Homo sapiens: one gene and its partners. The protein of the gene in region 1 purifies or fractionates together with the protein of each later gene. This does not show direct contact. Each region holds a gene or a part of one and is shown in the gene's direction. Other genes may lie near its edges. The genes, in order: EPB41L3, VANGL1, HSPA12A and AP3B1.

Region 1 (9,695 bases):
CCAAGTGCCCTCCTGATAGAAGAAGCCTTCTGGGGCATTACTAACAGATGTCATCTGGTATCTCCTTAAACATTCTAACTGGAAACTCACTGTTTATAAAACAGCCTGGCCCATATTAGAATGATGGTCCTCTTTTATTGAGCTGAAATCTCATCCTTTAATGAAAGAAAATATTTCTAAACATATATGGATGTAAAACCAGATTTAAGTTTATAGGGCTCATCAAGTATAAAACCAAAATAACCTTAATAAATTGATAGGAGAAATGCAAGGCCTGAACACTAAAATTAACAACACACTAATTTAAAACGATAAATGATATTGTTTTTCTGAAATAAAATTCCTCATGTTGTGCTTTAGAAGGATGGAGCCTCTGGTCAGTTTCCTTATTTAATTTGGTTCACTAAGTTTTACTAAGCAGCCCAGGGAATGCTTGTTTGCCTAAGTATGGTATACCAAAATGTATTGAAATTCTCTATTTGCAGGGTTTAAGATAGTCAGATCTCAAAGTTAACTAAAACTGCCGGCAATTAGTCCTCAATTTCCCATTTTAATGAGACATCCCTTGGCAACTTTGTAAAAACTTGGAAATTAAGGTCAGAGTTGCAGTGTTACTGCAATCTTTAATAAATAGGCATCTAATCCAATTATTGCTGGAATTGGGAACAGGACAATCCTTTATTGTTATTTATTACTATACTTACTGCTAATGAACTGCTGCTGCAGACTGATGCATGCAATGACAGGATCCAAGCAATAACTCCTGCAAACTGTGAATCGTGTAGTGTAGATTATCTTCAGTTCAGCTCTCGTATATGTCTGAGTGGGCTGTTTTTCCACCCGTTTTCGGTTCCAACTTCTATGAAACATCTATCTGAACGCACTTTGTCACCTGTGGGATTTTTGGTATGGACTGGTCGCCTAGATCAATGGTTCTCAAGATTTGGTGTGATTTATAATCACCTGGGGAACTTGTTAAAAATGGCTGCTCCCTGGACCCCACCCCAGAGCTTCCGACTCAGTTAAGGCTGGACCCCAAAATTTGCATCATTCACAAGTACTTTGAATGATTCTGATATCAATGGTGTGCATCTGGTAGTTTTATTCTTTTTAAGATTTTTATTGACACAGAAATGTAAAACTTAGAAAACTGTTCACAAATAAGCCAGTTTGAGAAACTCTGGTATCCTCAGATTTGTATCATTTACAAATGAGTCAGCCTTGGATATCAGACAAATCCCTAATAAACATCTTGCATAGGAAAGTGTTAGTAGCCAAGGCTTTCTTTCAAATGGCTTTGACCTATTGAACAAATTTATTTTAAGGGACAAAGATATTCTAGATGATGTTCTCAGTGATTCCCAGAGCATTCTGGAAGCTGTGGACTACAGTGGAATGACATTTTCAGGTTGTACCCTCACTGTTGAAATCTGCAAGCCAGTGAGACAGTTGGAAAGGGGAAAAAAAACATGCTGGAAAACAGGAATTAAATTAAGAAACAAAGCTAATGCTTTTTCCTTAGAGTAGTTATTGCTGTATGTTTATTAGTTTATAAAGTTAACCATCACACATTTTCCTAAAGAGGAGATAGCATTAACAAGTTAATAAGCCCGACTTCTGAATGTGTCTTACTATCTATTATTTCTTCCTCTGTTAATTTTTGTTGATAGCTTCTGGGGTGAAACATAATAGCTGATTAGGATTACTTACAGCTTTACAGGGGATGGACAGGCTTGCTGGCATTTATTTTGTCTTTTGGGGGAAAAGTGATTAAAATGTTAAGTGTCTTAGCATATAATTCAATAGTGATCATGTGGTTGAGAGCTGAATTTAATATTACAGATTAACAACTTCCATTCTTTATATTCTAGCATTCATATTTTACCATTCCATATTTATACTAAAATCCTAAATAGAAAACATTCTCAGTGGATTTTTTATTTTTACTTAAGAACAGAATCATTGAGCATTTACATTTAATGAAGAATTGATCACTAGAATAACCCTTACAATTTTATCGTTTAAAAGTACTGAGACTTATTTCTAAAATTTACTGGAAATGGAGAAAGTAAAAAAATCAATAAGGATATGTTTTAATACAATAAAACTTACATACTATGTATGGGTCCACCTTTAAGTCTATTCTTTATATAAGAATACAAAGATAAAAAAGGCAAATATGGAATTCTGATGAATAGGAATGATTTTAAATGGTGTTAGCATGCCTAAACTTGCTCCATCTTATGTATACTTTTCATACATTTTGTGCTACATTTATACTTATCAATACTTTATTTCGTTTTGCATCTGTGCCTTGCATGTAGACAGACCCCTGAAATGGGGTATACAAACTCAATATGAAGAGAGCATCTGGAAGCCTTAATGAGCTGTAAACTTAAAGCTATTCTTAGAACCTAGAAACTCTTCAATGAATTTTTATTTCAGAAGAATAAGCTTGTTGCTTTTGAATTATGCATTCATCCCTGTATTTCTCTTATTTATGGTCCCCAGTAACGCTGTGGCTGAAGACTTTATATCCTGATTTCAAGAACTTGATATGCAATTCAGGTGCCTGACATTATTCTGAGCATAAAATAAACCTCAACTAGTTATTGCCAGTGTTGTCAACATTTCACTAAGGCAGCAGATCAGGTTGAATAAATGAGGCCAAATGAGTGTGAATGTCTATTAGGGTGGCATTTGTAGGGTTTGCTCAAGCGTCAATATTTCTTCAATTTTCATGTTTGAGAGCAAAGTTCAGATAAGTTTAACCAGACTGATTCTCTATTATTTCTTTCTGGAGTCTCATCCATAAGGCTGACAACATGGCTGTCAATACAACTGCAAATTCTGTCCTTGTCTTGGCTATCAGGTTGGAATTATCATTGCTGTTCAGGTAGCAGAATACCAGTTACTCATTCACTCAAGAAGTCAGTACTCTATTGACATTTGTGGTGGAATAGAGGTTCATGGGGGATCCAATCTCTTCAGCTTGGGATGAATTTACACACATATCTTACCTGAAGTAAGCTGCACCCTTTTCTCTGCACCTTTTCTCTGGCTAGAATTCTTGATAGCTGGTGACCTTCAGTGATATAAATTATATAGAGTAATTTCAGGAAGTCCATAAATAAGATTAGCGTAGAGAAAGCCCAAGTTAAGGTAGTGGAGATCAGAATGGGCATCCTAAGACCTAGGCTAGAGTCATGGAATCTTTCCTGACTTTCCATGGATTGTTTCAGTATTTGCATAACACTCTCTTTAGTACTGTGTGGACATAGTAAATTAAGAATCTGAAGAACTGAGTTCTCATGCCAAATTGGCACTAATTCTAGGACTGTGTAAACGGCATTTACTGGACCCAAGAACTACTTTTCTATAACTTATTGAAACAGCACCACAAGGGGGGTTACATTGACAAGAATAAAGAATTCTCTGGGGCTATAGTGGCTTTATTTTTGGTAGTGAGAGGGAAAAGGAGAGAAGTTAGTATTCTAAGAAAGCAAGCAAATTCAATCATAATTGTATCTTCACCTTGCTTTCTACTTTATGTTCCTTCTCCTTTCTGTGTGGAAGAGCTCATTATTTCCTGATGAGAGCTAAATAGTAGGGTTTTCATTATTGCTTTTACTTAGTAAGAGGTGATACATCTTTTAGTTTTATAGGCCCCTAATATTATTGAACCATACAGAATTTTGGAATCAGTCCCTTTTATACATGAGGAAGCCGAATCCCTGAAGAAAAGTGACAGCTTAGTTCATTATTCAATGTCCATTCATTCAGTTAGCAAAAATGTGAAGTGCTTGGCTTGCAATGTGCCCAGTGAGGCACTGTGGGGAGACAGAGAGGACTAAGAGAGGATCCTGCATGGGATTCACAAGAAAGAATGAAGAGATCGCTATTATCAAGATGCAGGCAAGTTGCTGAGGGAGCTATGCAGCTATGCACCCCTCATGAATTTGACGTTTCTTTTTCTCCCTGTCTGTGCTAGGGGGAAAAAAATAATAGAGGAGAGACTTGGTTAAATCCAGAGGATTCCAAAGTAATTGCTTCCAAGATTTCCTATCAAACTATGCAGCAGTATGGTTTTTACTCCAAATTTTCAATTCGTGGAATATTACCATAATTAGGGTTTTGTTTGTTTGTTTGTTGTTGTAGTTTTTTGAGACGAGTCTCTCTCTGTTGCCCAGGCTAGAGTGCAGTGGTGAGATCTCGGCTCACTGCAACCTCTACCTCTCAGGTTCAAGCAATTCTCTGCCTCAGCCTCCTGAGTAGCTGGGATTACAGGCGCCCACCACTATGCCCAGCTAATTTTTGTGTTTTTAGTAGAGACGGGGTTTCACCATCTTGGCCAGGCTGGTCTTGAACTCCTGACCTCGTGATCCACCGGCCTCAGCCTCCCAAAGTGCTGGGATTACAGGCATGAGCCACTGCGCCTGGCTTAGATAGGTATTTCTAATTAAAAAAATACTTAGTTGTCTAACATTTTTCTCCCAAGAAAATTGCCATTCAGACACTATTGCTGATTTTCATCACCACAAAGATTAAGATTCATGAGTCATAAGAAAAAGTTTGCTTTCAATTTTAAAGAATAGCAAAAATACTGCAACAAAATGAATGAAAATATGGAGCCATCTGTGTCTTGAATGATAATGCCAAATGAGTGTTTATTGTAAACAATACAATTTATTCAAGTCCACTTTCAATGGAGTGCTTTAGTGTACATGCAAAAAAGGAAAATGAATTCTTTCTTCATTCACAGACCTTATGTGCTACACACACACACACACACACACACACACACACACACACACACACAGAGTCATACAGGTGCGTATGTGATATGTGCATATATGTCTCTAATACTCATACGCAACACTTTCTGACAGGAAATGCAGTTAATTCCCAAACATCCACTATTGGAACTGTCACCTTTATCTGTCACCTGAAAGACAATTCAGGCCCTCATTACCTCTGGTAACTGTCTTAATACCATAGTCTCCTCCGAACACCAACCTGGTATTTGCCCATCTGTTCTAGTCTTTGCAGAGCCATAAGATTAGTTTTCTTAAAACATTACTTAAGTCACACTTTCTTGCTCAAAATTTCCCAAAGCTACACATCTATAGAATATAGTCCCATAAACTCCATAGCAACATAGTAACTATAATTTTCCAACCTTCTCCCTCTTCAACATGAAAAAACCCTTCCACTCCAGCCAAGGAAATCAAATACCATCCTCCTTTCCTACCAAAGTCTTCCCTATTCTAGAAACCTGCGCCAAGTCTCCCCACGTCTCCGGGCCTCACTGACAGATCAGGCCCACTAATCTTTCCCAGAGGCACGTGTTCTGTATCTTGTCTTTGGCACCCAGTAGCAAATGCAATATTTTTGTGAATCCATTTTTTTCCCTCTTTTAATGAGTCCCTGAGCTCCTGGAGGGGCAACCGGATGATTTGGAGAAGGCTCTATTTTAAAAAAATTAATAACGTACAACATGAAAGGGATCTGATGTACAACACGAGGACTAGAGCTAAGAAGTGTCTTGTATTCAGGATTTTGCTAAATGAGTATATTATAGCTACTCTTGCCACAAGTAGAGGGGTGTTGGGGGAAATGCATAACTATGTGAGTTGATAGATATGCTAATGTGTTCCACTATAATAACCATTTTACTATATATGTATCTTATGTTGTATGCCTTAAATATACATACAATTTATTTTAAAAATTAAAAAAATTTAATATTTTATTTTCAATTTTTGTGGGTACATAGTATGTATATATGTTTATGGGGTACATGAGATGTTTTGATACAGGCATGCAATGTGTAATAATCACATCATGGAAAACAGGAAATCTATCCTTCAAGCATTATCATTGGTGTTACAATTCAATTATACTTTATTTTAAAATGTACAATCAAATTATTTTGACTATAGTCACCCTGTTGTGCTATCAGATGCTATGTCTTATTCACTCTATTCTTTTTGTGCCCATAAAAATATTTCTTAAATATCTTGGTTAGTCGGTTAGATCTTAAGATATTGTGAGATGACCAGGAGTTACTTCTTTCACTTACAAGTCAGTGAGCCACCTCCGCTCTTTAAAATCAAGGTAAATTTCGGTGGAAAGCTTTATAGATACTGGAGAGGACGGAGTAGCTGAGTTGCTGAAAAATGGGCGACTTCTCTTATCAAGCATTAATTCAGATCTTCTCTATTAACATGACTTGAAGACACCACCAACTTGATTTTATTTTCTTTCCAAAAAGAAAAAAAAAATACTGCAGTCCCTAGCCAATAAATAACTCACCTGAAGGTCAGGAACACCCTCTCCCTCCTTTCTCACAGGGGATGTCTGGGAGGGGAGAGGGGTCTGGAGAGGCCAGGCCATCATCTAAGTGGGAATAAAGGGCTAAAGCTATTGGCATTGGCAGCTGTCTCCAGGCGTCGTCCGCGGAGCCTGACCCTGCGCCAGGACGGAGGAGGCTGTGCCCATGTAACTGTCCTGAAGTACTGCGGTGGCCCCCTCCCCCGCGGCTGGGAGGGCAGGCAGGACGAGGTTGGCTTTCCTCGCACGGTCTCTGGGCGTGGGCCCCCGCCGCAGCTCCGCGGAGCCTCGGTGTCTCCTGCAACAGGGGGCGGGGGGAACAGCGGCGAGCAGCCCTGGGCTGCGGCTTCCTCCCCACGCCCGAGTCTCCTGCGCACCGCCGCCGAGGACGCGCGCCCGAGCCTAGTCCCCACGCCGCGGCGCGCCCGGGCTCCCTGCTGATCCCAGGTAACTTTTCCGCCTCTCGGAGTGGGGGACTGCGAGGGGGTCTCGGCTTTACGAGGTGCGGAGGAAGAGCCCGAGGCCTGGGGCGAGGCGCGCGGGACAGTGGGGCTGACGCGTGGCTTCGGCGCCGCGCGGTCTCCCGAATCCCGAGCCCCGCGCCCGGCGCGGCCGGGGTCCCCAACCGCCCTCCCGCTCGCCGGGACCCCCACCGGGCCGAGCCTGCGCGCCGCGCCCCCCGCCCGCTCCGCCCGCCGCGGCGCAGTAGTGGCTGGGCCGGCGCGCAGAGCCTGAGCCCCGGCCTCCGGCCTGGGGGCCTCCCTGGGATCCCTGGCCGAAGGGGCGACTCGGTCCCCGCGTCCCTTCTCCGCCAATTTGCACAAATCCCCCGCCCGGGGCGCCATGTTTTAAGTTGCCCCTCGGGCTGGGGGCGAGCGCGGGCCGGCCCCTCCCCCGGGGAGGTGCGGGGGACAGGGGGCGACACTGCGGCGCCGCCCGGGCGGGTGGCGGCTGGCGGGCCGCGGGAGGGGCCCTGCGCTCAGCGCGCGGCGGCAGCGGGCTCGTCCCGGGTGCAGGCGCGGGCGGGCGCAGCGCGGGGCCGATAAGGTGCGCTCCGCACAAAGCATCCCCGCTGGGCAGGGGGGCCGGCCGCTTTTATATAACTTGCCTCGTTCCCCAAACTGGGGCAGCGGCCCCCGGCCGGTGGGGGAGGAGGAGGGAGCGTCCAAGCGGGGTTGCCCTGGGCCTGGGCACCTGCCGGGGCCCCTCGCCTCTGGCACCCGGGCGCGGGAGCACGGGCGGGCCGGGGGCGCCTGGGTCGGCCTGCCGTGGCCCGGGGGCTCGGGGCGGCGCGACTCACCTGGCGCCCTCGGGGCCGCGATTCTCCTCGGGAGGTGTCTGCGAAGGCGGCTCTGCCGCGGTGGGGGTGGGGAGGCTAGGGCTTCGGACCGCTGGAGTTGGGGTCGCAGCCAGTTCCTGGCGAGTGTTTCCTGGCTGCTGCCGCAGGGGCTTGCTTTTTCGGATTTCCCCTCTAATCTCGCCGGACTTCTTCCCCTTCCCCCCCACGCCCGCCAAGTTCATGGCTTCTGCAATGCGGTGGGTGTGGTTACCTAGTAAATTGTAACTGTGGTCCCTTGCAATGAGAGTATTCTTTTCAATTTTCTTTTTATATTACGGATCTGAAGTTTTCTAGGGTTTTTCCGTTAGTTGCAGCCCAGGGTTAAAGTTGGTAGAGATTGTTGCGGAACAGAACAAATAGAATGATAAAGGAAACATGTGGTGTTAATTACTTGTGGAGGTTGGGCTGGGAGGTCCTGAGAGGGCCGGGCAGTCCTGCTAATGCAGTGCTTCCATTGCGTGTTTAAGTTGTTTCAGCTTTTTTACATTAGTCTCGCGGAATTGCTTTTGCAGATACCCTGCCTGTCCTTTTTGTTGAGGGGGGGTGGGGAGTGGGGCACAGTGAGAATTTTAGGCTGCCTGAGGTGGCCAGGTGTGCTGGAGTTTGTCTTGGTAGCATTAACTTCTATAGTACAGGAAGCGTCACACCAAGTGCTTAAAAACATTGTTTTTGAAATTTACCTTGATTTTTAAAGTCTCAAGGAAACAAAAATGATAAAATTCTGCTTATGTCTGTGAGCCATGGACGTAGTCCCAATTACAGCAAATTAAGCAGAAAAGCCCTATTAAGAAAAGAGAGCAGCACATCAAGCTCCAGTGAACTCTGGGGACTGAGAGGTGATTTCTGTCTTGGCTCAGAGTGAGTGTTTAAAAAATGCATGTTAATTTTGGTATCAAACTTTAAAAACTTTAGTTGGAGTAACAAAATTAATGTGAGAGGGAATAAATACTAAATTGGAGAAGCGTGACTTCAATTTGTTAATTTGCAAGGCATTGATAGCTGAATGCTGAATACTGTCTCATTTGCATTATGGTTTTCTGGTGGTTTAGAAAAGCAAAATATCAGATGCACAACTTACTGCATCAAGTTTATTTAGTTAATACACTTTAGCCAAAATAAGTTTTTCAAAACAGAACATGTTTTGTGAATAATTCATCCATAACAAGAAGAGTAGCCACTTTAATTTGTAAACCGCTTTTAGCTGAAGGATTCAGGAGCTGTAGGTCAAATGTCAGTGTCTCAATGAAATATTTGCGTTTAATTTTTAAGACATTTCTTCTGCATGAATGCGATTTAGGTTAAAAGCAATTTTTTATCAGTTCATGTACACTGCTTGGACTTTGGACAACTTTGTGTTGAAATAAAAGATCAGGATTTTTTTTAACTTGATCGGATGCAATTTTATTTATAATTGTTTTTTAAAAACTGGTTGGTCAAATGTATTAAAGGGCCACCTAGGTAGAAGAGAGGCAACTATCCATGTACTGAGAGATGTGATGCTGTTATCTTGTGAATCTTTTCTGGACTTATATAGTATATTAGATTAAGTGTGGCAGGAACTTGCTGTAAAAGTATTTTCTTCCGTGTTGTATGATGTGCATTCATCTTTTAAGTTAGTGCTTTCCCTAAAATTCACAAATTAGAATTCATGTCCACTCCAGTAAAATAGAACTCCAAGAGTAGACTGAAGAATAAATGTTTCCTTTCTGTGAGAATTTGAGTATATATAATGAAGAGAGAGACTTTTTTTTTTTTTTTTTTTTTTTTTGAGATGGAGTCCTTCTGTGTCACCCAGGCTGGAGTGCAATGGCACGGTCTCCGCTCACTGCAACCTCCGACTCCTGGGTTCAAGCAATTCTTTTGCCTCAACCTCCCGAGTAGCTGGGATTATAGGCGACCACCACCACACCCTGCTAGCTTTTTTTTTTTTTTTTTTGAGACGGAGTCTCGCTCTGTCGCCCAGGCTGGAGTGCAGTGGTGCGATCTCGGCTCACTGCAAGCTCCGCCTCCCGGGTTCACGCCA
Region 2 (6,800 bases), on another chromosome or scaffold:
GAGATGGCAAGTGTGAGACGGGCTGTGTCAGAGGTTGCTACGTCATGGATACAGTGCAGTTCCAAGTGCCATAAGTGTATGTACATATAGTTAATAATGACACTGTTCATCACCATTCTAAAATACTGTTCTTCCAACCCTATCTTCAATGACCAGTCCAGAAGGGGTTAAGCTGGATTCATTTGCTCTGGCATGTGCATTCCCAGCAGGGTGAAGAAAGGTTTAAATTAAAGAATTTATTTTCTCTCTCCCCCTTCCTCTTTCTCCCAGTCTTTGCATAGGAGAATGTTAGACATTCAGAAATTACTGTTTCTGTTTTAAATTGAGTATTGATTTTTTTATATTGACTTTGTATTGAGTTCTTTTTGAAAGAATAACAAAATAAAATGCAGGATCTTTGTAAAGCCTTTGCACTTTCAACCTCTTTATAGCTTGAGTTACTTTTGCAGTGGGAACAATGTAAATGACATTTAAAAGATTTAAGGTTTCAGAAAGCTGCATCCCACAATTGAACACAATGCATTTTTATTTCAATTCTTGGAACTGGTAGGCTATTCTTTTTAAAAGGGGGTAAACTTCGCCCTAAGGCTGGTAGAATGTATGTTCACATTATAGTAGACAGGATTTCATTTGCCTTATATGTTTATAGATTTTTTATAATTTTCATCCTACGTTATTAAAATTAGAGCATTGAGTGTTAAAGAACTTAATGAGGAGTCTATATCTGAGATTGCTCTCTTCCCTGGTGATGTTTTAACTGGTAGATAATTTGTTCTTAAATATGTACTTTTGAAGATAGGACAGTTTTTATAGTCCATGAACTGAATGTTAAAAAGTTCTGTATGCATTCTCAGAGAGGATTTTAAAGCTATATAGTTCATCCATCCTTTGCATTATCAAAATGTTAAGTCAAATCTGTAATACTTTGGCTAAAATTCATAAAGTAAGCCCTAGAGAAAATACTTGACCACCAAATTTTTGCCCAACTATCATCACCTCCCTTCCCCCGCCTCTGTTCTTGCCTTTTGACATCTACATGGAAGACAAGTTCTTTACAGCAAATGGTAAGAGGCAGGTGACCTGGTGTGTTTGCTGTGTTGTAGTTCATTGCCTGGGGCTTGGGACTCCTTTTTTAATGGAGAGACTAGCTGTGCAGGTGTGTGTTGGATAGGGATAAAGTGCTCACCCCTGCCCTCTCTACAGTAGTTGGTGGTAGATTTCTCTCTCATTTTGCCTCATAATCACTTTCGAGTGCATGTATTTACCTAAGGGCTGTAGCTCTGTGGGATGCTACCAGCATATTGGACTGACAGAAATTGATTACCTTGCCACTCCAACCTACGTACTGAGTGAGTGCTCCAGCCACTCAGTGAAACCAACAAAAGTGAGTCCTTGGTTTACCTTCCAATCTGGGTCCTGCTGTGTAAGTATCCCTAAGTGGGGATGCATATTTGTTTGTGCGTTTTTATTTCCATATATGTGAGCATTTCTCTGAGTGTATTACCAGACGGATAGCACATTTATATGTCAGACATCTTAACATCTGTGTTATCTGTAGCAGGTGTGTAGCTCAGCAGATACGTGTCATTGTGTATATAGCTGAGTGTGTGAGGGTGTCTGTGTTTCTGCAGTCCCCTGTGTTTGAGAGATGACTTAATAACCCTGTGTTTTGAGAGGTCGCTCTAAACCAGTGACTTTTCCCTCCCCTGCTTTATTCCTTTCCCTCACTGACACTGGCTTCTCCCGCTAGAGTAAATGGCTTTAGCACAGCACTGTCTTCTGGGGAGCCTGCTGTCCTGCAGGCAAGTCCATTAAACTCTTTCTTGCTTTAGGACTCTGAAAACAGCAAGAAACAAACAAACAAAGGTCAAGCTCTAAGAAAATTACTGCTCAAACTTCACTACCCTGGAAGCCTTACTAGATATTTCTTAAGGTAACTTAAAAATTGGGCTTTATTTTTAAAAAGTGATAGGTTACTTACAGTAGCACAGAAATGTTAGCATATTTATTTAAATAGTCCTGCAGCAGAGACCCTGCGATTGTAAAGTGATTTAAGTATTTCTGGGTAGTGTTTGTGATTTACGGATTTGTTACTGAAAAACAAAAAAATCACTACTGTGAATTTACTACTATGTAACCTTGTGGTCGTATTTCATTATAAATAAAATAAGAATTGCTCTTCTGCCCACCGTTCTTGATTGGTATTCAGTGCAGTAGCGAAATGAGATAGTTTAGACACTGTTGAAATAACTGCATTGAGCTTTAACCAAGTGTATGCTCAGAAAATTCAGTTTTGGATCACATTTTGACAAAACATGTTTTGGTCAAAGAAAGGAAAGGCTACTAACACATTTATCAGGTAATGTATGTCACAGTCCGTGTTCCACCCAGCCTTGTTATCCCCACATTCTTTCAAGATAGGAGTCATCTTGGTTTTTCGGGTGAAAAACGGAAGGTCAGAGAGGAAGGGGCTTGTCCAAGGTCTCATGTCTGGTTAACAGAATTTCAAACTAGATGTTTGATTCTAACCCCTCAGTCCACTGTACCTTGAAGTATGGTCTAAATGATTCGGCACTTCTGGATGTTGAGGAAGGACCTAGAGACACATCCTTGAACTAGAACCTGGGGTGAGAGTTCATTGGGAGGCAGGATCTCTTCTTTCACTTTGGATTTACACCTTGTCCCTTGGAAAGCTTCTCCACTATGCTAGCAAATATCTTAGGATATTTGATGGAAAGAACTTGAGAATCCCTTCTGGAAAACCCAGCCTTTCAGTGTTAACACCTGCTGCAAGACAGGGATGCTGTTGTTCTGGCAGCCCCCCTTTGCTTTTGCCTGGCCCCACCTTCTGCTCCCACTCTGCTGGCTTGGGCAAGATGCGTGCCTTGGGCCTTGGGTGCAGGGAGGCAGGCAGGGGCTTGACCTGGCCTCTCTCTGGTGCCATGGCAACATTATGCCCCAAACTTCTTCCCTGGTTGGAGTGAGAGGGGCTGTCCACAGCCCCATCCTGTGGGGATCTCAAGCCGGAGTCCCTGGCCTGGCCTCCTTGACGTAGGTGTTCTCAGCAAGCAGTTTGCATCCCACCGTCTTTCTCACACTTGCCCCCAAGACTTTTGACAGAGCAGACGTAAAACAGGACTCAGAAAACCATTTTTCTCTGTTCCCATATGTAGTAAGTTTTGATTCAGTTGTGCATAAACCATAGTTTTCTGCCCTGCTGTTTGCTTTCAATGGAAGACAGTAAAGGGAAGATGGTGCTCACATCTCTCCATGTGACATCTCATTAGGAATTAAGATGCGATGGATTAGAAATGTAAAACTTCAGAATAAAATTAAATTTCAGGGCTCTATAAGTCCCGTTTTCCCAGGTCCTGTTCCGTTTCTACGTAGATAACCCAATTTGTTTTGTCTATGAAATAAGCCTCTTTAGTGGGTTGTTTTAGTCTCTCCAACAAAAGAGCAGATTCCTAAAGCCAGGTGCAGCACTGTGAAAAGTTTCTTTCAATATGGCACCAAGACTCTACCATTTATGTCTCTCTCAGCTTACAAACATCAGCGTTTTGTCCTTGTCATAGTGGAAGAAAGACACTTACTTTAAGCTTTGGGGACAAAGGTGACAAACCCCAGGCTTTTATCTTAAAAGTGTCTTTGGCACTTCTTTTGGCACTGAAATGGTATTTGGGAAGCATTATTTGAATGTACAGTTGTTTGGTTTTGTATGTGCTTATCTTTATCTGAGCTTTCACTTGTAGACATGGCCTTTTGTTGTGAAGTTGCTCATCATTTAGGAGTGTTTAATTCTAAAAAGCCTTCAGCCTAAGAAAGCTTCATCTGTGGGGACCAGAGACTTGTTGCTCAGGGAGTTAGTGATGGGACTTGGGCATCTGATCTGCAGGTGACAAGTTTAGTTCAACTGAAGTTGTAGGGAATTTAGACAGTTGCACATCATTGCCGTTCTAGGGGCCTTGTAGAAAGATGAAACAGTTGTTTTTCATTTACCAGCACCTCTCAGTTATAGAGGTAATGGAACATTCGCTTACTTTTCATCATCATTCTTTAAAAAGGGAACATACAAAAATCTAAACTATGGCAATAATTTATTTTTATAATAGTTTACGGTAGGCTTTAATTAAATGGCAAACTCCTCTGGGACCCCTAAGTTATGGCGTGATTAGCCAAATTTGATTTCCAACAGTCATTTATGGCCATAACTATTGCATAGAGTGCAGGATGCCAGCAAAGATGAGGGTGGGGGCAGATACTGGCTCAGTGATTTAACTCACATTATAGATGACCCCTTCCTCAACAGAAATGCTACTGAGAGAACCAGAGAGGCCTGGGCCAGGCAGGTCTTATTTGAGAGGAGATTATTTGATAATTGCTTTGGTTAGAAGGACTTTACATTTCCTGATTTCAAGTCCAGCACCAATTTAGAAAGTTCAGAGATGAAACCACCTGTCTTTACCTGACAGAGTCATAACGGTTTGTGTAAAAATGTGGTCAGGGACCTTTTTTGTTCTTTCTGATTAGTTAATACTGTACATTGTAACCAGGAGGGGCAGTTTTGCCAACCAGCCTCTGCTCATGGTCACCATATGTGTATGACAAGGCCTGAGTGAGTTCCTGCATAAACTGGGTAGTGGGCTCTTTTGACACATTTGCAAGCATGTAAATGAATGAATGACACTACCAGCAACCATCTGTACAGGTCCATTTACTTACATTCATAAGGTTTATGCTATGAAACTTCTTCTCATTGTGATGTCAGTAACAGAGTTAGTGTCTCTGATGGAATAGTGTACCTGTCACCCAAGTTATTTTGTTCCTTTTTGGGTCCTCCAGTATAATCCCCCCCTCATCCCAATTAACTGTAAAATGTTTTACACATCACATTTTTTATACTGTAAACTTGGAAAATAAACTGAAATATCAAATTGTGTCTTGTTTCTTTTCTTCATGTGATTATTTCAATCTAAAAAGTTGCTTACTTTTTCAGGGACATTTTTCACTCTCGCATAATTTTGAGACCTTCAGAATTTCAAGACAACCTGTCATATTTCTATAAAAACCAAGACAATTGTGATGGATTGGGAAAGTAGAATTACCATTGTAACAAAAACTACTAGTTGTCAATCATTTTACAGTGAAGAAAATGTTTTGAATAGATAACTAAAAATGAAATCCTCAGGCTCTAAAACATGGAGATGAAACAGATCTTTTGAGTAAACCAGCAAGTGGAAAGGTATTTGAGTCAAATAAGAAGACAGAAAAGTAACAGACTTTGGGTTGATGTGGGAGGTGAATATTGGATTATTTTCCTGAGTGGCTTGGGAATTCAAGTTAAATTATCAACTGATTTTAGATAGGTCTATTTAAAGGAAATTTGATTATTTGCAAAGAAATATGAAGCCTGTTTTCCGCTAACCTCAGTGGTAGAATTTTGACAGCACACAATCAAATTCTTAGCTATTGCATGGACAGAAATTAGAGAAAGCAATTGACTCAAAGATATTCATTGGTTAGATTATTGATAAGCTGTTTCTTTGGGCCATTAAGCAAAATGTACACAATTTATATCTACATAAGTAAACCCTGCTAATACACTTTGTGCTATCATTTGGATATTTGTTCCCACCAAATCCCCTGTTGAAATTTAATCCCCAGTGCGGCAGTATTGAGAGGTAGGGTCTAAAGGGAGTGATTTAAGAACTTGAGAACTTGGGTCATGGGATGGATCTTTCATGAATAGATGAATGCCCTCTCTGGAGGAAGTGGGGTGTGAGTGGGTACTCGCTCTGTTAGTTCCCTGGAGAGCTGGTTGTTAGAGGCTGGCACCTCCTCTCTCTCATGCTTCCTCTCTCACCATGTGATCTCTGCACACACTGGTTTTCCTTTACCTTCTGCCATGAATGGAAGCAGCCAAGGCTTTCACCTGATGCCCAGTATTGCAGCCAGCAGAATTGTGAGCGAAATAAATATTTTTTCTTCATAAATAACCCACTCTTAGTTATTCCTTTATATCAATAAAAACAGACTAAGACACCTTGTAAGCTCTGTTACCCAATAGTGCTGGGGAATTATAGGTATTCTAGTTAATCAATTATTCATCCACCAACTCAATAAATGAGTATCTACTTTGTGATGGGCAAAGCGCTAAGTGCTAGGGATTCTAAGATAAATTCCTTGCCTCTAAGGAGCCTGCAATTTAGTGAAAGGACAGACATGCAAATATATGTTATACCTTAAATGATAAGTGACATGATCCAGGGATGCACAAATCACAGGGGGGAAGGGGCACCTTCAGGTCACCTAGACAATTGGATAAATGGTGCTATCACCCACCCAAACTAGGACTCCATGAAGAGGAGAAGATGTTTAGGGGAGAAGGCAATGAGTTCAGGTTTTGTTGTGTTGAGTCTGAAGTGCTTGTACAACAACAAGTCAAGATATCCAGAGGCAGTTGAATGAATGTGTCTAAAAATAAGGCAAGGAGTCAAGGTTAGAGACTCATATTTGGAGGTAATTAGCACATGGATAGTATTGATGGGCACGATGACATCATTTTGGAAGAGTATGTAGAGTTGAGATGCTGTGAAACACCATCATTCAAAGAGCAGGCAGAGGAAGAGGGGCTAGAAAGGAAAATAGAGAAGAAATAAGGAGGTAGGACTGGAGCCAGATGAGAATGAGCAGAGTCAGAAAAATCAAGATAGGATTTTCAACATTGTCTGAATATTTTCAAAATATGAGTTTAATGACAGAATTAGTTAGCTAGTATTCCACAAAAAGTATTGCTCTAT
Region 3 (9,048 bases), on another chromosome or scaffold:
TGAATAGTATTGCATAGGAGCAGAGTTGGCTTGCCCCTGGCCCCTACACTTATTTCTAAGGTTTCCTCATTGCTGGGAAAAGAGCGTGCATTATTTTATTGTTTTAAAGGCTCACAACAAACCTGTTACCAGCATTCTCCCCTTCCTGGGTGGGAAATCCAAACACAGGTTGAGTGACCTATCCAAGGTCACACATCTGGGAAGTGTTGTTTGGGACCCAGGCCATCTGATTCCAGGGCACCAACCTGTGCATACAGCCCTTATGCATGTGTGCAGTGGTTACCACTCTATTAAGGACATAAAAAAATGGTTGTGCTTCCTGGGAAGGATTTCCAGAATGTTTTTGGTACAAAAGGATGGGTGCCACAAATATCACACTGTTGGAATTTGTGAGCAGTGGCAGTCCTGGGTTGGGGAGGGGTTTGCTGGTGGGTAGGTGGTGTTGGGGGGTGGTGTCAGAAAGGCTGGCCATGAAATCTTCTCCAACAAGTGCAGTTGGGGTGGGGTGGGGAGTGGGCAGAGGTGCGTGCCAATGAAACAAGAATGGCAAAATGTGGTAGTTGGGTGATGGGGAGCGGCGGTTCATTACTATTCTGCTTACTTTGTGTATGTTTGCAAATTTTCTTAATAAGATGTTTAAATTACTTAATTTACAAAATCTGAAGGGCCACACTTGAGGGTCTGGGTGTTGGACAGCAAAATTTGAGATGACCTTCAATCCTGCCCCCTCCCGCATGACCTGAGTGGGTTGACACATGGAGCCCTAGAAGGGTGAGATGAATTGGGGGTGGACAGAGTGGTTCGGACAGGGATGGCTCCTATGGTGACCAAGTCAGGGCTAGACATGAAGAGTGGAAACCAAGTCATTTTTTCCAGGGCACGGGCTTGAGGAGAGGGATGGTGGGCAGGCAGTTTTGCCTGGGTTGAGGGTATCTCTCGAGGCCTGGCATTGGGCTTTGGAGATGCCATCCTGGAGGTTCATCTTAATAAAAATAAACATTTTAAACGTTCACTTTTATTGAGGACTTAGTGTGTGCTGAAACCTGGGAATATTGAGTTATCTCATTTAGCCCTGACCACGTTTGTTGTTGAATGAATGACTATGAAGGACGCCCTGTGATCCCCATTTCACAGAGGAAAAAGCTGACAGTCCTAGCAGCGCACAGCTGGAAGGGGGCCTAGGTAAGGACCTAGGCCATGGGATGCAGGCCCCAGGTGGTCAAGCTGAACAGCCTCTCCTGGCATGTGCCTGGCATGTCATAGGCCCTCAGGGACTTGTGTTGAGTAGGCCTGCGGCTAATAGAGAGTGGCTGCCCTACTTCCTTCAGCCACCAAGCTGTAGATGGTAGTGACAGGGCGCTGGTTATAGCCCCCAAAGGAAGTAAGCAAAGGTCAGGGTGATGCTCTGGGCATTGCAGGTTAGGGTTCTGGCTATGGGATCCACTTCCGTGTCAACATCTGCTGCTGCAACTTGTCTGCCGCCTTGGTGGTCCTCCCATGCCTTCTGTGTATGTCCCTACACAGTGTCTTGTGTTTCCCAGAGCCTTGTGATCGCCTTTGGCCCTGGACACATGCAGTCCTCCCTGCTTGGGACATCCTCTCTTTGTTTAGCAAGGTCCTACTCATCCTTCAAAACTCAGTTAAGGTATCACCTCTCAGGAAGCCTTCCTGGGCTCATCCATCGGGATGAGATCTGCCTGTGTGGTCCCAAAGCCTTCGGTACTTAATGGTTGATAATTCCAACTAGTGTTTGTTGAGGCCCTACGATATGCCAGCTTTGTATGCCTGTATCTCATTGACTCCTCCAGCAACCCTGTGAGGCTGGCATTATTATTACCCCATTTTGCTGATAAGGCAATTGAGGGCTTTGAAAAACTTGCTAACTTGCCCAACCAGTGAATGCTGGAGTTGGGATATGAGTCAGCCATGGAGCCTAAAATCTTGTGCTGTTTCTCTCAATGCTCTTTCTTCCGAGAAAGGCGTGGACTATGTCTTTCATTTCCATTTTTTTTTACTAAGGACACTAGTAGGTGTTCAATAAATGTCTTACTTTTTGTTGAGTGTCAGTCAGCAAGACATGAGGGAACACAGCAGAGGGCAATGGCGTCTACATCTTGCCCACTCCGCAGTGGTGCTCCTGGAAATGTGGATGCTCAGGAGTGGGCCAAGCTGGAGGGGAGTCAGGCAGGGCTTGGACAATCTCAGAAGAGAAGCTGCTTTGATTCCAATAAGGCCTGGAGTGACGACTCAATCTTGTGGGGGCGAAATGCTCTCTTTTCATATAAATAGGCCTCTTTGGTAAGGGAGAAAGCATCTTTATTACTGCTGTGCATAATTAGAACAGCGGGGAGGAATCAGGGGCTTTTAATGAATGAGCAGCGTGTGGCAGGGAATGAGTGAGCGCCTGCCACTGCGGGCACCCCCAGGCCTGGGCATCCCCAGGAGTGAGCGGGGCCAGCGAGGAGACGACCAAGGAAGCACAGGCAGTGCTCAGAATTGAAACCTGCCCCACTGAAGCGGGCCCTGCTGATCCTTGCTGCGTTCCTGTCATTGCAAATGACTCCCAGGCTGCAGCTTTGCAGATGCTGCTCTGAGCTCTGCCAGGACCACCCCTCTTCTTCCAGCCTTGACCGTGACCTGGCAGCCGCAGATGTCCTGCGGGGCTGGCAGCTGCTCCATGGCACCCCTTCTGGGCAATCCTGAGCTGCAGAGTTTTTGCCTTGATTTTAGTCCCCTTATTTTTAGGGTGGCCATATGTCCTGGTTTGCTGGAATAGTTCTAGTTTATGCCTCTTTTCCTAGTGAAATTAGTAATAATGATATCTTTCACCTTCTAAGTATCTCAGTTTGGAAGGTGAATTATGTGGTTGCGCTCCTTATCTTTGTCTTCTCAGCCATCCGGGCCTCAAGACGGATGAGGGAGGCAGTAGGGTGTGCAGGTAAACCTGGGCTTTGGTCTCAGATGCTTGTAACATCTGGGTTTAACGTTGCTGCATCTGTTTTTTCTGCTGTAGACAAGGACGATTAATAATCTCTGCTCTACTGGGGTGCTGTGAGAATGAAATGAGAGAGTATTTGTAATGAGCTTAGGTATGAGCCTGGTACACAGAGGGCTCTCAGTAACTTCCAGTCATTTTATTATCATTGTTAGGTTGATTTGGGAAGCGTAGTGGTTAAATGTGAGATCTGGGGCCAGACTGCCTGGGTTCAAATCTGTGCTGTGTCATTGACCTGCTCTGTGACCCTGGCAAGTTACTTAACCCCATAAAGCCTCAGTTTTTCTCATCTGTAAAGTATGGATTATAACAGTCTCTTCTTCATATGGCCTTTATGAGAATTAAATGAGTTTTTATATGAAAAGCACTCAGAGTAGAGCCGGGCATGAAGTAGACATTGAATTAATATGAGCAATTATTATTGGCTGTTATTGTTATTATGAATAAATGTCCCAACTTACATTCTTGTAGGCAGGAGGAATTATCCAGTACATTTGTTTCCTATTGCTGTTGTAAAACTTACCACAAATTTAATGGCTGAAAACCATACAAATTTATTATCTTACATTTCTGGAAGTCAGGAATAAGTCCAAAATGGGTCTCCCTGGGCTAAAACCAAGGTGTTGGCAGAACTGTATTCCTTCTGGAGGCTCTAGGGGATAATCCATTTCATTGCCTTTTCAAACTTCTCGAGGTGACCTGCATTCCTTGGATCGTGGCCCCTTCCTCCATCTTCCAAGCCCATCACTCCAGCCCCTGCTTTCATTGCCACATCCCTTCTCTGACTCTGCCCCTCCTCCTCCCATTCCCTTTCTAAGGACACTTGTATGAGGACCTCTTATTAGGCCTACTTGTGTAATCATTTCCCCATCTCAAGATCCTTAATTTAATCACATCTGCTGACTCCCTTTTCCCATAGGAGATAACATAGTCATCGGTACCAGGGGGCTATTATCGAGCCTCTCATAGCCAGAAAGATTGGAGTCTTGCCTAGGTTTGGGGTGTTGGAGAGTCTTCTGTGTCCCTCAGGAGCTGTCTGAAGTTTGGAAATGACTCCTCCTCCGTGTTGTACATTAGGTCAGGTTCCTCGTGCACCTGCTGCGGGTTGCCCTCCCTGGAGTTTGGATTGTGGATCAACCCTTGACTTCTATTCAATCTCAGTAGGGTCCTTAGAGACATTGTTACTTTTAGGGCTGATTTAGCCCCTTCTGAGGGGCCCATGACTCATTGAGATCTGAATAAAAAGGTTTATTGGCTCCCAAGCAGGGAAAACAATCAATGCATTAAACAAGTTATTGAAATGTCTATAAAATGTCACATTATATTTGCTTTTACTATGTAGCAAACCACCCCAAAGTTTAATGGGTTAAAACAATAGTCTTTTTAAAAAAATTTATTTTAAGACAAGGTCTTCCTCTGTGACCCAGGCTGGAGAGCAGTGGCGTGATCTTGGCTTATGTAAGCTCTGCTTCCTGGGCTGAAACGATCCTCCCACCTCAGTTTTGTGGGTAGCTGGGACTAAAGGTGCACATCTCCATGCCTGGCTTTTTTTTTTTTTTTAAATAGGGACAAGGTCTCACTATGTTGCCCAGGCTGGTCTCAAACTCCTGGGCTCAAGCAACCCTCCTGCCTCAGCCTCCCAGAGTGCTGAGATTACAGGCATGAGCCACCGTGCCTGGCAACAATAGTCATTTTATGGCTTATGATTCTCTGGGCAGGTCTCTGTTGGGTGGTTGTTTTGGTGGTCTTCCCTGTGGTCACTTATGTGACTGCAACACTCTGATGGCTCAACTAGTCTGGGTAGTCCAAGATGACCTCGCTCACAGGTCTGGGGGTTGGTGCTGGCTGTCGGCTGGGCTTCGTTCTCCACATGGTCTTTTATCCTCTAAGAGGCAAGCTCAGGCTTCTTTATGTGGTGGCCTCAGGACAGCAAGAGGATGAGAGGGGAAGCTGCAAGGCCTCTTGAGGCGTTCCTGGGAAGTCCAATAAAATCACGTCTGCTGTATTCCTGGTGGTCACAGCAAGTCTTGAAGCCAGCTCAGATAGAGGGATGGAGAAATTGCCTTCACCTCTTAGTGAGAGGACCTGCAAAGAATGTGTGGCTATTTTTAATCTAACAGAGTTGGCTTGGCAAAAATGTTGAAACTACAAACTTTAGAAAACTATATTATGCTTTAAAGCAACTTGTAGGTTAGATCTCACTTCTTAAGACGTTCTGCAAGTGCCCAGTGATTGTCTGACACTTACAATTATTTGTTTGTTGTGCTAGAACATGTGTTTCTATAAGTGATAAATGAAGAATGATGGTGGTATTCAGAAAAGTTGTGTTGGCACATTCTCAATTTTTCCCAGTATGTTTGCACTTTGACAGATCAGGATGAACTTTTTTCTTTTTTTTCTTTTCGAGACGGAGTCTCGCTCTGTCGCTCAGGCTGGAGTGCAGCGGCTCGATCTCGGCTCACTGCAAGCTCCGCCTCCCGGGTTCATGCCAGTCTCCTGCCTCAGCCTCCCGAGTAGCTGGGACTACACTCGCCCACCACCACGCCTGGCTAATTTTTGTATTTTTAGTAGAGGCAGGGTTTCACCGTGTTAGCTAGGATGGTCTCGATCTCCTGACCTTGTGATCTGCCCTCCTCGGCCTCCCAAAGTGCTGGGATTACAGGCATGAGCCACCGTGCTCAGCCCAGAATGCACTTTTTTCATGATTGAAGGCTAATATATGAAAAAAGCAAAAAAAAAAAAAAAGCTGAAAATCTGTAGATGCAACTACCTTTAGTGTAAGTCAGGGCTGTTTTAGTATTGTTCCATTCCCCATTCCCTTAAGCTCTGTTGGCAGCTGAGAGGGCAGATGAAGGAGCTGCAAAGACATTGTCCCTATAAGAAAATGATGGGTATGGGTGTGTGGGTGACACCCTGGATGGGTTTTGCTTTTTTTTTTTTTTTTTTTAGACAGAGTCTCGCTCTATTGCCCAAGCTGGAGTATAGTGGTGTGATCTCGGCTCACTGCAGCCTCCACCACCTGGGTTCAAGTGATTCTTCTGCCTCAGCTTCCCGAGTAGCTGGGACTACAGGTGTGTGCCACCATGTCCAGCTAATTTTTGTATTTTTAGTAGAGGCAGAGTTTCACCATGTTGGCCAGGCGGGTCTCAAACTGCCTGTCTTGGTGATCTGCCTGTCTTGGTTTCCCAAAGCTCTGGGATTACAGGTGTGATCTGCCTGTCTTGGTTTCCCAAAGCTCTGGGATTACAGGTGTGAACCACTGTGCCCTGTTGGGTTTTGCATTTTGATGAGAATGGCCCCCTAAGAAGTGAGTGCTCCGTTACTGTTTTTGGAAAGGTTCCGGTAGCAAGGTTCCGCAGGTGTGGAGTGATGTACACCGACCTTGTTTTCCTCATGAATCCTGTTATTTTTAGTGTATGGGTTTGTAGAATGTGAAGATTTGTAGGAAAATATGCTGCATTACAGTGGAAGTGCTTGAACAGATGCTCCTTGACTTACAATAGGGTTACGTCCCTATAAACCCATAAAAACGTTGAAAATATCATAAGTTGAGTCATCCTAAGTTGAGGACTGAGTGTATTTATATTTGATGTGGGATAAGTGTTCATTTAAAAAATATTTGCTCCGATATGGGGTGGAGCCTCAAATAACAGCCAATAGGAAGAGCCTACAGTCACTTCCTATTCAGTCATTTGAAATTTTGAGACTGCTTTGCTTCCCAGATGTTTGCATACTTAGTGGGTAGTTTTGTCAGTTATGTTCAGAATTTTAATGTCAGAAAACAGAGACTCCAGGAGTAAGTTCTGTAGGATGGAGCTCCTGTTTCATCGACCCACTTAGCACCCAAGATCTCAGAGGGAAATGGATTACGCCAGTGCCCTTTGCTTCCTATAAACTGACAATTAAATGATGTCCCTTGGGGCTTCCTATGTTTTGTAAATCAGACCTCGTGATCTTATTGGTTTCTCTGTGATGAGGAACAGTGGTTCCTGTACCCAGGCGGCTGGTTCTGTTTGGGACAGGGAAGCTGTAGGTATTCGGGCTCCAGCCTGCTGCCTCTGAGGCCTCAGGCTGGCCTCTCTTTGCTTGTCTCCCATGTTTCCTTGGGCTGAAGGCTAAACTCCTCTGGCCACTTACTTCCTTTTCTTTCCTTTAGTCATTGTCCCTTAGTGACCATCTCCGCTGGCTGGGATAAGAAACTGTTTACAGCACAACCATCAGGCAGGAGTCTGTGCCCAAAGGACAGATGAAAGTTTCAGAAAACAACTGCTTGTAGTCAGTCCACATGGCTGCTGGACCGATTTGAAGGGATGATGGTTATCAGTTTGGGTGGTGGTTTCCCTGGGCCAGCAGTTAGAAAACAGAGCTCATGGATACATCCACAGCTAGATGGGACCAGGTTGTCTAATGTCTGGACTGGGCCCACCCTCTCATTTTACAGATGGGGAAACTGAAGTCAGGGAGGGGAAGAGACTGCCCCAGGACACTAGGCAAAGCCAGGCTCAGAATCGAGGTCTGCCGACTCCCTCTGCATGCTTTCCAGCTGAACTCCGCAATGGCTACAGAATCCTCCAGCAGTCCCGCCAGCCACTCCCGGTCACTCAGAGACGGCACAAGGATCCAAACCTCCTTGCCGTTAACAAATTCATGACTTGTCCCTCCAGCAGGAGTTACATTTTAAAAAAGTATTTGAAGAATGCTTAACTCAAAGGAATGAAGTGCCAAGTCAAATTGCTGTGAATAAAACACTCTGCAATGGTGGAGCCGCAGGCCCAGCTTTTCTTTTCTAGTCTCTTGTGTGTTCCCTCACTTGACAGTAGTGGTTGCCCATCTTTTTGTGCCTTGGCTCTTGGCAGAATGTCTGTTTTGAAAGGGTTTTGATTAGGGATTTTGGTTGCAGGTAAGTAAACCTTCTCTGGCTAGAGGAAGCCAAAAAGGTAACTTTACAGTGAGGATCCAGGGCTGGTTCCTGGAACTTAAACCTGCTGCTAGGTCTAGGAGGGGAAAGTGTTGGGAACATGGCAGTTTTCTTTCCCTCTGTCTCTTTCTTTCTTTCTTTCTTTCTTTGTTTTTTTTGAGACGGAGTCACCCAGGCTGGAGTGCAGTAGGGTGATCTTGGCTCACTGCAGCCTCCGCCTCCCGGGTTCAAACGATTCTCCTGTCTCAGCCTCTGGAATAGCTGCAATTACAGGCATGCACCACCACACCCAGCTAATTTTGTAGTTTTAGTAGAGACGGCGTTTCATCACGTTGGCCAGGCTGGTCTCGAACTCCTGACCTCAAATGATCTGCCTACCTTGGCCTCCCAAAGTGCTGGGATTACAGGCATGAGCCACCACCCCTGGCCCTGTCTCTTACTTCTGCTTTGCTCTGCATGTCACCCACCCCTCCTCTCTGCAGGACCACTTTAGGATTGCTTCCCATCTTTAGGGCAAATGTGGCCCCCAACAGTGACCCCCATGTTGAAATGAAAAGTTCTGATACACAGGAGGTCTGATGTCTGTCTGTTTTTCTTTCTTTTCCAAGTCCAGATTCCCAGACGAGGCCGCAAGATTCAGGTATGATCAGGACTTGACCCAGAAACAGTCAACCCTGGCCAGAAGAAGGGTTACCTTGCTGAGAGAGGGGGAGTTAGGGGGCACGATATCTGGTGGTCAGAGAGTAATTATCTCCCACAAATAGTTAACAGTACAGGTGTCTGAAGTAAGCCCTGTGTAGTAAAGAATTTCTAGGTGAGGGCTGTACAAGAATGGAGAAGAAAGAGACTACCTGTTAGAAATTTTGCTCTTTTGTTCTTTCTTAGAGAAAATTACTTTCTCCCATGTAAAAGTTTCATGCTACATGGGGTAACTGACCACTGGGTCCCTTGCATGACAATAATGCACAGACTCTTGGTGTGTTCTTCTGGTGTGTGATGGGCTGTAGTCAGTCCACATGGCCGCTGGCCCCATTTGAAGGGACCGTGGTCATCCGGTCTGGCAGTGGTTTCCCTGGGGCCGGCAGTTAGAGAGCAGCAGAAGGGGTGCATCATTCATCTGAGTCACTTGCTTCAC
Region 4 (4,921 bases), on another chromosome or scaffold:
TGCCTCTTTTCTTTCATACCCCTATTCTTTATAGTACTGAGACTTTTGTGGCAATAGGATTTCAAAAATATGTCCAAGATACTAATTCTAATTTCTGTCAACATACTGACACCAAAATTGACATTTGTCTCTGCCAACTTTATATTAATTGTAACATTAACTCTAAGTTTTTTAATAGAAAAGAGACAAAATGTGCCTTGGGGCTGTGCCACCCTGAAATTCAAACAACAGTGCTTTTGTGTTCCTATTCAGGCATAATCTCCTTCTCTATGGTCCCAAGGCACAAGTGTTAAGTAAATAAAGGGACTAATAAGACTATTGTTTACATAATTATAACCCTGTCAGAAATAGGGACCTCTGTTGAAATATTTGTTGAGTGAATTACACACGTGATGACCGAATCTGTGGGAAAAGTTGCATAAATGAATGGGAAAATAGAGCCACCTCATATCCTTTGGTGACGTGGTTTTACAGGAATATAGAAACAGCATTCTCCTATGAAGCAGAAGAGCCTGAAAAATTTAGACAAAAGAAATGCATAAACCTGTGAGGAGCCTTAGAAAAGAGAGATCATTTTAGGGCTGGTGATCTTTATGTTTCTCAAAGATGAAATTGAGGTACCTAGTTCATAATCTCTCATGTGTACGTCTGAAAAGCAGATGGATGTGTGTGTTAAGAGGTTTATAAAAACCTCTTTAAAAACATTGGTATGATTTATATTCCTAAACTGGTTACTTACAATTGCTTCTCTCAGTAGGAATACTGCTCTGTCAGATTCCTTGCAAGTTTTCAGCATGCTTGTAGAGTGCACAAGCAAATGCCTAGGAAGATTTTCTAACATATTTTGTTGATAGCCCATTAGCTAACATTTTAAAACACAACTTCAAAGTGTTTATAATATTTGAAATTTAGTAAAATTAGCATATCTGTTTTGGTTTGGATACATTATTCTAATTATTGTTGGACAACCTAGTTCATGATTTTATTTGTCCAAAAATGGCTTGTTTGGTTTTAAAAAAATTAATGTGTTATGAGATCTTGATGTTATTTTTTAAAAAACCCAAAAAAGAAATTACTTTTCATTTAAAGAGAATCTGCTTCCTGCTTAAGTGGCTAATATTTTAATTAAGTCGGGAGTGAAGTTTTTCTGAGTGTCTCCTGATAAACTCCCTCTTTTATGTTGATGGTAATTAAACAGATCCCTGTGGACACCGTGGGCTCTGTGCGAGGCCCATGCTAATTGTCAGACATGAGACACTGACCAGTTGGTTTGCTCTTGAATAGTCCGCAGCGTGCTGTTAGCGCGGCAGTTTTATTTTTATGTATTGTGAGCTGTTGTCAGGGCTAACTGGGTGCCATTGTGGCTGAAGATGTTGCGCAAATTGAGGCAGATGGCTCAGATTCAGACACGTGTCATATAGAAAGGGGCAAGGGGATTGGCCCTGCAAAGTGGGGTCACAGCAGGTCACAGACCTGCTCTACACTTGTTAGTGTTTTCAAAAGCTCATGTGCAGCAACTTTGTTTTTCTCCAGTCATCCCTGCAATCAAACCCCCTCCCCCAAAAAGTGTGTGGAACATGCTTCATGTGGAAAAGGGAGGCTTGGGAGGTTCCTGTCCTCTTCCTTCATGACCCTGAGGCTCAACTGTGCATGCAGAATGAATTAGCAGGATTGACAGAAGTTCGTTATGCCTGCAACGGCTTTTCAGTCAATTGCAGTGCTTAAAAGGCTAGTTTTGCTTTTAGTTCCGTGTAATCAGTAGGTTCTTCATGTCTTGGAATTTAGAGTTAGAGCTTTAGACCTCCAGTTTCCTCTGGAAATGTTTTTGTTTACACTCTACAGAAAGAAAGATCTAATGTCCTAAACATTTCAAAACAAAGAAAAAGGGAAGCGTGAGGTTGCACTTAGCTGTCACGTGATTTTGCTTCATGTCATCATTAACATTAGAGATTTAATTTGAATATTGTTACATGAGTGAATTCATTGAAACTTAGTAAGAATTTTATAATGTACGTAAAATTATCTAACTTATTACATAATCATTTTCAGATATGAGGAGTTAAATTTTGAAGCTCTTTGAGAAAGGTACCTTTTCTTAACATGTTTTAAAAATAAAAATACAATGGCTTATTTAAAATGTCCCTATGCATGGTGAAATGTTAAATACCAAGTGGATGAATGGTTCTCAAATATATTGTAATGGAGAATTATTCACATGCATCTATTGTTTAAACTAATAAGTAAAATAGACTTCCTTTTTCTGTTCTGTTTTAAATGTGCACTAAAATTACCTGCTTGTGGTTAGCATGGGCTGGACAGTTTATTGATTTTTCAGAAGAATGCTTGGCTTTGGGTTTTTGGCAATAGGGAGCCTGCAGCAAATTATTTCATTTGACAAAAAAGAGTTATTTTAATCCTATTTGAATGTATGCTATCTCCTTTACCCTCCCCATCTTATGATAAAAGGTCTCTCTTTTTTCTCTTCCAGGTTTGCAGCTAAAACTGTGCACAGTGGGTCATTGATGCTAGTCACAGTGGAACTGAAGGAAGGCTCTACAGCCCAGCTTATCATAAACACTGAGAAAACTGTGATTGGCTCTGTTCTGCTGCGGGAACTGAAGCCTGTCCTGTCTCAGGGGTAACCTGCTTACATCTGGACTTTAGAATCTGGCACACAACAAAAGTGCCTGGCATCCACTACTGCTGCCTTTCATTTATAATAATAGCCCTTCCATCTGGCAGTGGGGGTAGAATACACTCTTGACATTCTTGTCTCCTGCTTTAGAATGCTAGTGTGTATCTATCATGTATGCAATACTTTCCCCCTTTTTGCTTTGCTAACCAAAGAGCATATATTTTACTGTCAGTTGTCTCAACTCTTGAATCCATGTGGCGTTTTCTCTGTCCTGCTGCTTCTTTTGGCCTCCTCGTTTTCCTTCTCTTTTTCGACAATGGTAGACATGAATGAGATATTTAAAGTTCATTGGAAATCTTCTTCCCTACAGCAGTAAGCAAAAATTAGCAAAGAGATAGTCTAAATGGCCTCTCAGCTTGGTATGTGAAAATGAGATCACATACTTTTTAAATCCAAATACAAAAGCATAGTCTCTGCAAGATTTTGTTCTTTGAATTTCTTGATATTGTAATTGATTATTGATAACTGTCATCATGAAATTATCTCTCAATAATAAGATAAATAAACTAGCATATGAATCATATTTGTCTTTGCATTTTTAATGAGAAACTATTAATAATCCTGAAGTTCATATGCTAAAGTTTTCTTATTTTAAAGCAAGTATTTTGAGTGTTACATTATGCAGAGAAGCAATGTGGTTTAGTTAGCGAAAGAAAAACCACTTCCAAACCAAGTAAATTTTCTACTTATAGTTTACTCCAAGGAAAAAAAATTGGTGTATTTAATAACAAAAACAAAAATCTTCATATTGCAAAATAAACATCTTCTAGGTAGTTTTGATCTATTAGTAGATATCTGATTATGTGGCCTGCTGAATAAATTCTTTGAATCTCATTTTTCCTTATGCCCAACTTTGGAAACTAACTAGCATAAACTTATAGAAATGTTTAAAACTAGTTATATGATCAACCTATTAGCATCTTTTCCTAGAGTATTTGTTTTATTTGCTACCTTAAGTTACTGTTTTCAAGGTTGTTCTATAATCAGAGAACTTTTCTAATACTTTCGTACCTTTTTAAAACCAGCTGAAATTTTACTTCCTTTTTGAAGCAAGGTAATGGACTTTCAGGTAGTATAAGCTACTCAGTTCTTTTTGTATAGAGCCACATACATAATGATTTTTAAAAAGTAAAAAGGAAGTGACTGTACATTGCTTGAAGCATTATAGGAAGGCTGAAAAGAAAAGAATGGAATTTTCTTGGAACATACATATTGAAAAGAACAAAACAGAGTCGAAAAATTATTTAAATTTTCAAGCTGGTGGGATGACAAGAGTAAACAAAATTGTTAAATTTTCCTGCTCCAGAAAGAAATATAGCCCTGAATCTCCGGGAAGAGAATGTACAGAAGTGCAATGTACAGAAGCCACGTGTACATTTTGTGCCAATTCCGTACCATGTGTACATTCTGTACCATTCTGTACCAATGTATGGAAGCCACGAGTTCCACTTCCCTCTGGAGCCTGGGCGCTGTGGTAACACACCCAAAAGCCCCTTTGTAATCGCAGGTCGTTGGCATTTCCATATTAGCCTTATTGCTCAGAGCTTCATAACTTTGAATTTTAAGTCAATAACTTTTTGAAATGTCAGACAGAATTTGACAGGTTTAATACCTGTTTTCTGAGGAAGAAAAAAAAATTATATCCATGCTGTCTTCAGGCAGAGGGAAAGTGCATGTTGTGATTGAGAAAGGTCTTATTTTTCCTTAAATTAGGACACTCATCTTTAAAAGATAGTTCACACATTTGTATTTTTTTAAACTAAGGAAATTTAATTAGGGCTTTACTTTTGACTAAGTTATTTTTGGCTGCTAACTTTTAAAATTATGGTAAATCAATAATATAATGTAGTATGAATCAGTGAACAGTATGTATCGATTGTAATGTGCGCTACCAGTTGAAACCATTTTAACACTAGTAGCTTAATATCATTAAAATGTTTTTCACGTAAAACAGAAAAACGACCAAAGCCCCAAGTTAAAGGTTTGGTTTTTTTTCTTTTGTGGTGTGGTGATTCAGAGTTCCTTGCCTCATATTTCCTTTAACTTTGTCATAATCCATGATTATCTTTAAATTGTTCCATTGAGTCGAGTTAGTCAATGTTGAATTCTTAATTCTAGCTATATTTTTTCATTTTAATGTTCACTTAATGGGACATTTTATGTACACCAATCTTGAAGAATGGCTCTCATAGTATATTTCAGACTAAGCCTCATTTTTGATATCAC

Evidence for each region.
Region 2: the proteins of EPB41L3 (region 1) and VANGL1 purify together in Homo sapiens (affinity purification with mass spectrometry; 2 studies listed by BioGRID and IntAct, with this or other methods). This does not show direct contact.
Region 3: the proteins of EPB41L3 (region 1) and HSPA12A purify together in Homo sapiens (affinity purification with mass spectrometry; 4 studies listed by BioGRID and IntAct, with this or other methods). This does not show direct contact.
Region 4: the proteins of EPB41L3 (region 1) and AP3B1 purify together in Homo sapiens (affinity purification with mass spectrometry; 2 studies listed by BioGRID and IntAct, with this or other methods). This does not show direct contact.

Annotation. Positions count from the first base shown.
Region 1 is NC_000018.10:5,540,998-5,550,692, reverse strand, and holds the start of EPB41L3 (band 4.1-like protein 3), read left to right. Parts: upstream 1-6,695; 5' UTR 6,696-6,780; intron 6,781-7,633; exon of another isoform or gene 7,634-7,864; intron 7,865-9,695. UniProt on the Homo sapiens protein: Tumor suppressor that inhibits cell proliferation and promotes apoptosis. Modulates the activity of protein arginine N-methyltransferases, including PRMT3 and PRMT5.
Region 2 is NC_000001.11:115,693,288-115,700,087, forward strand, and holds the end of VANGL1 (vang-like protein 1), read left to right. Parts: 3' UTR 1-4,934; downstream 4,935-6,800.
Region 3 is NC_000010.11:116,731,343-116,740,390, reverse strand, and holds part of HSPA12A (heat shock 70 kDa protein 12A), read left to right. Parts: intron 1-9,048. UniProt on the Homo sapiens protein: Adapter protein for SORL1, but not SORT1. Delays SORL1 internalization and affects SORL1 subcellular localization.
Region 4 is NC_000005.10:78,000,623-78,005,543, reverse strand, and holds the end of AP3B1 (AP-3 complex subunit beta-1), read left to right. Parts: intron 1-2,488; coding exon 2,489-2,642; 3' UTR 2,643-3,218; downstream 3,219-4,921. UniProt on the Homo sapiens protein: Subunit of non-clathrin- and clathrin-associated adaptor protein complex 3 (AP-3) that plays a role in protein sorting in the late-Golgi/trans-Golgi network (TGN) and/or endosomes.